Linked DNA regions of Homo sapiens. The protein of the gene in region 1 purifies or fractionates together with the protein of each later gene. This does not show direct contact. Each region holds a gene or a part of one and is shown in the gene's direction. Other genes may lie near its edges.

Evidence for each region. The genes of interacting proteins can lie anywhere in the genome.
Region 2: the proteins of NCBP2 (region 1) and KPNA4 purify together in Homo sapiens (affinity purification with mass spectrometry; 2 studies listed by BioGRID and IntAct, with this or other methods). This does not show direct contact.

The regions. Positions count from the first base shown.
Region 1 is NC_000003.12:196,934,906-196,937,217, reverse strand, and holds the end of NCBP2 (nuclear cap-binding protein subunit 2), read left to right. Parts: intron 1-135; coding exon 136-207; 3' UTR 208-1,812; downstream 1,813-2,312. UniProt on the Homo sapiens protein: Component of the cap-binding complex (CBC), which binds co-transcriptionally to the 5' cap of pre-mRNAs and is involved in various processes such as pre-mRNA splicing, translation regulation, nonsense-mediated mRNA decay, RNA-mediated gene silencing (RNAi) by microRNAs (miRNAs) and mRNA export.
Region 2 is NC_000003.12:160,520,572-160,524,071, reverse strand, and holds part of KPNA4 (importin subunit alpha-3), read left to right. Parts: intron 1-2,161; coding exon 2,162-2,293; intron 2,294-3,500. UniProt on the Homo sapiens protein: Functions in nuclear protein import as an adapter protein for nuclear receptor KPNB1. Binds specifically and directly to substrates containing either a simple or bipartite NLS motif.

The DNA.
Region 1 (2,312 bases):
GTGCATATGTCCTGCTTGAAATGTTCACATTGTGGCATCTGAACAGGTTTCACTGTTTGTCTAACATGTTTGTGGGAGGCATATTTGTTACACCATTCTTTTCCATACTGTAACTCTGGATTCTTTCCATTAAAGGTTCGGGATGAGTATCGGCAGGACTACGATGCTGGGAGAGGAGGCTATGGAAAACTGGCACAGAACCAGTGAGTGGTGAGAGCTCTGTCAGTGACAAACACTCCTTTGGCCTGTTGAATTTGCTGAAGAACATCACCTAAAGTCTGCACACGAGCCCATTTTTACCAAGATTTGATCAGTGTCTTTACTGAGCTGGAAGCCTCTGAAAGTTATTAAAGGACAGAATCCAAAAGAATGCCTTTAATTCTTGTCTGAGAATCTTGGCCATGTGTCAGATTATCAGAACAATTTTGTTACCAGGTCAGAAATTGTGTTCTTTGACAACAGATTGGATCTGTAATGTTGATTAGTCTTTAGCCATAACCACTACACTTTTAGAAAGACAGAAAAATGTAAGAATTTGTTTTTACCATAATGAGTCTTAAGTAGGTTCATGATCTACATTGGGGCCTGGGATTATTTTTTTAATTTTAAGTTTGCATGAGATAGCCTAATAAATGGAGGTGGGGCCAGGCATGGTGGCTCACACGTGTAATCCCAACACTTTGGGAGGCTGAGGAGGAAGGATAGCTTGAGGCCAGGAGTTTGAGACTAGACTGGGCAACATAGCAAGACCCCGTCTCTACAAAGCACAACGAAAAACAACAAATGGAGTTGTGCTATGTTGTATTGCTTTGCACAAAATTAGGAACAGGTGTTTGACAATTGAATTTGTTTTCTGTGAATTCTAACCTCTAAAGGCATGCTTAGAGGTCAAGGACCTTCCTGTGTAGTTGGTGCAAAAGCAATCTCCACAGGACAGCACTGCTTCCATGCTTCATACATCAGGAAATGAGGCCAGAACTTGAGTATTTACTAACACGTTTTTCAAAAGATGTCAGTGTTATACCTAAAGCTAAAAAAAAGCAAGGGTTTGTCATAGAGGGAACCTCTAAATAATTTCAGGGGTAGGGGAGATGTTGTCAATAGGAAATGGGATAAAATATCAAGAGACAATGAAAACACTGCCTTGACATGAGGACCAGCAAGTTTATTCTTTTCATTTTCAGTGATGTTGGGAATGGACTGGGTTTTAAAAGGGAGCTTGAAGAGGGAATGTTTGACAGTCACAGAAGGTTCCTGCAGCAGATGCCTCTTTTAGCCATTTCTCATTTTTTTCCTCAAATTTTACCTACTGAGGCTCAAGCCTTCACAGTGAGCTGATGGTCTCTACAGGGAGGGGAGTCTAGGGAATTTATTTGGTATTTGTAAGGCAAGAGGTGATTTCTCTCTAATATATCTGAGTTATTGCTCATTTAAAACTGTTAAGTCCAGTATAATTTTCCCTGATATGAAAAAATGTGCATTTTTTTCACTTAGCAACAAAGTACCTTCTAATTTCCAATAGTCCGTGAAAGTTGGGGCTGAAGTACCTAAGTGTGAATGTCTCTCCCGTTAAACTGAGTGTAGAAATCTGAATTTTTAAAAGAGCTGTAACTAGTTGTAAGTGCTTAGGAAGAAACTTTGCAAACATTTAATGAGGATACACTGTTCATTTTTAAAATTCCTTCACACTGTAATTTAATGTGTTTTATATTCTTTTGTAGTAAAACAACATAACTCAGATTTCTACAGGAGACAGTGGTTTTATTCGGATTGTCTTCTGTAATAGGTTTCAATAAAGCTGGATGAACTTATCGTTGTTGCTGCCTGTTTCCTGGCCTATAAAGAGGGTTGTGTTCTGGAATTCCTGTACTCTGGATACACATGAATGAGTTCCAGGGGGATTCTATGAATAGTGTGGACAATTCGCGTGTCCATTTTGATTGACTGACAGTTGGAAATAACTATTGCTGCGTGTGAAGAGAGCGCACAGATTTTCTTGTGAAAGTGATCAAATAGGCACCAAGCAACCTCTACTGATGGAAGAATAGGTTAGTTTTCCAAAAAACATGCTCTGGATGATTGCAAGGGAAGGGAAATTGTGGGTGGATTAAGAACATCTTATGTTTCCTGGGCTAGAGAACACTAAATGTGAGTCTCTTTACTGCACCATTCTTTCCTATTTCTCATGGATAGCATCTGACCTGTTTCTCACTTTAATCGGAGAAAAGTGAAAATTCAAACGTACAGATGAAGGCATCACTATTAATACATGTTAGTGAAGTGTGAGAATTAAACATTCAGTTTCTCAGTCA
Region 2 (3,500 bases), about 36 Mb from region 1:
TTTGATCTGAGCATATTAGTGACATGTCCTTTAAAAACATGTATCTAGCTTTTATATACAGTTATGAGCAAGTAACTTGAAATTTTTGGCCTATGTCAACAAATTTTAGCATATGTTAATATTCCAGAAAAGAAACTCAGTTACATTTGCAAATTGAAATTTAGGTTTTTTCACATATATTGATACCATTTTTTTATGTGAATTCTTTTTTTTTTCTTTTTGAGACAGAGTCTCGCACTGTTTCCCAGGCTGGAGTGCAGTGGCATGATCTCCACTCACTGCAACCTCTGCCTCCTGGGTTCCAGCGATTCTCCTGCCTCAGCCTCCCGAGTAGCTGGGTTTACAGATGCCCGCCACCACGCCTGGCTAATTTTTTTGCATTTTTTAGTGGAGACAGGGTTTCACTATGTTGGCCAGGCTGGTCTTGAACTCTTGACCTCGTGATCCACCCACCTTGGCCCCCCAAAGTGCTGGGATTGCAGGCGTGAGCCACCACACCCAGCCTGTGCGAACTCTCATTTGATGTCTTCTTTTTACATTAGAAATATCCTTAGAGCTTTCTTGAATTTCCTAAGAAACAATGGCAAAGCATTATTTTCACCTTTTAGGAGTTTCGGGGTGTCTTTTTGGTTTTTTTTATCTTATTTTTTTATTTTCTCTTGGGTGTCCTAAGCATAACATTAGTTTACAGTTTTACGATTTTTTTAAAGTCAGGGTCATAAAAACAAGAAAAAATAAACAATGCCGAATTGTTTCTGTTTTTCATAGAGACGGGGTTTCACCGTGTTGCCCAGGCTGGTCTGTAACTCCTGGGCTCAAGCAGTCCACCTGCCTTGGTCTCCCAAAGTGCTGGGGTTACAGGCGTGAGCCACTACTCCCTGCCTAGTTTATTGTTTTAAAGGTTTTACACTTCTCCAGCTTGTCTTGACACAGAGTTCATATTCTGGAAAGGCTTTGGAAGTAGTTTTAGGCACAATTATTATTCCCATGTCTTTGTCAATAATTTGTGTATTTATTTGCAGCAGTTACAGTTGTTTGTCATACTGCCCTTTGGTCATAACTTCTAATTAGGACCTAACGTACTAGGAAAGATCAAACACATGGCCTGTTGTACTTAAAGATGTAATCGTTAAAAAAAATGGTAGGCTACTTAGTAGAAGTTGATTACACAGGCTTTTTTTTTTTTTTCATAAGTAGCAGCTGTAGTGAAGTACGTATTTTTTGTTTTAATTACAGGTCTCACAGATTGACCTATGATTATTTTAATGTCTTGATCTGCAGCTGTAGGGGACTTCCACTATTTAAGAAGTTGCTGGCCGGGCGCAGTGGCTTACGCCTGTAATCCCAGCACTTTGGGAGGCCGAGGCGGGCGGATCATGAGGTCAGGAGATCGAGACCATCTTGGCTAACACGGTGAAACCCCGTCTCTACTGAAAAATGCCAAAACTTAGCCAGGCGTTGCGGCATGCGCCTGTAGTCCCAGCTACTCGGGAGGCTGAGGCAGGAGAATGGCATGAACCCGGGAGGCGGAGCTTGCAGTGAACCGAGATCGCGCTGCTGCACTCCAGCCTGGGCGACAGAGCGAGACTCCGTCTCAAAAAAAAAAAAAAGTTGTCTCCAGTTCTGTAAGGCAAAACAAACTGGTTGGAAAAGATTAAAGTATTTTATACTACAATATGAATACTTGGGTTATTGGCTTTAGGCATATCTACATGGTACTTACAATACTAGAGAACTCCTTGAATATATTCATCTAGCCCAGATGTTTTGAACAACTGTGCATGTTGGATACATGTAGTCTTTCCAGCTTTATACATGAGCCACAATGTTTTTGGACCTGTTATCCCTCAGCCTTTGGGAAAGAGAATGTCTTTTTCTCCTGTTTTATGAGCTGTGTAGTGTGCGTGTGTATCTTAGTGAACTAAGATTGGATACTAATCTGGGATCAGAATCCTGAATATGGCTAAAAGATGTACGTCTTAGTACAGACATTTATAGATGATGATGTTTAATACCGTAGCGATCAGATTCCAATGAATTAAACTGAGAGAAGAAAAGAAGGAAGAAGGTAGTTGAACAATTTTAGAATGGTTGTTTGGTCAAGAATTACTAAAATGAGAAAATATTTAAAAGTTGTTTGAATTTTTATTTTATTCATTAGATACTGGTAGACACAGTCTGGGCCCTCTCTTACCTTACTGATGCTGGCAATGAACAAATACAGATGGTAATAGACTCTGGAATAGTTCCTCATTTGGTTCCTCTGCTCAGCCACCAGGAAGTTAAAGTTCAGGTAAGTTTGTTCTTAGTTAAATTATAAGTATTTCTTACCACTAATTGCTTTAAGCATGGCATTCAAAGATGGACAATTTCAGTAGTTTAAAGTATATTCTTAGCATAACAACAAATCTGTGATGGAAAGGGGAAAATAAATAATAAGATGCCATTGTAGATTACTAATTTCTTTTTTTAAGATGGGGTCTCACTGTCACCCAGGCTGGAGTGAGGTGGCGTGATCTCAGCTCACTACAACCTCCACTTCCTAGGTTCAAGGAACATTCTCCCACCTCAGCCTCTTGAGTGGTTGGGATCACAGGCACACACCATCATGTGTAGCTAATTTTTTTCTATTTTTGATACAGTCAGGGTTTTGCCATGTTGGCCAGGCTGCTCTTGAACTCCTGGCCTCAAATGATCCTTCCACCCCAGCCTCCCAAAGTGCTGAGATTACAGGTGTGAACCACCATGCCTGGCCGGATTACTGATTTTTAATGTAGACCAGGGAAGTTCATTATAGCAACATGCATGGCATCTGAAACAAGTATTGACAGACACTTATTTTTTCCTACTCCTCTTCTTTTTGTTCTTCCTCTTTCACTTCCCTACTTCTTTTTTTTTCTTCCTTGCCAACCATCCTTATTTACTCACCTGGCAAGTTTAGTTAACTCTTATCTTCATTGGTGCTGAAATAAGGGTACTCTACTGAAATGTGCTGTTTAGGGACTTTCTAAATTGTTGCTTTTCACTTATTTAAATTTATTTTTTATTGTTTAAATTCTTTCACATAATATTTATCCCAAAGAATTTGCATTTAGAAAGAGCCAAAAACAGAGTGTGAGAAGTTCTCAGAGATATAAGCAGTAGCTGTTAAGCTACAGTTGTAATGGGGGAGACGCAGCAAGCTCCCTCTACCTTTCTGAGGTAAATAGTATATTTTAATCTGCTAATGGCTTAGAATCTGTAAAGTACAATAATCGCATAAGAGAAACCGTTAGTCTGTAGCCTAAGTCATTATGCCTGAACATCAAAATAAACTGTGTGGAGCTGTTTTTAATTTCTCCTGCTCAACCCCTGGAGATTTCTGTTTCAGAAAATATTTCTTAGAAACTTGAGCTTTAAAATGCTCTTCAGGTGATACTGATACATAGTCAGATTAGAGACCCTGTACCTTAAAATTAAAGCACTTTAAAGAAGGAACACTTAGCTAAATACAGAAAGAA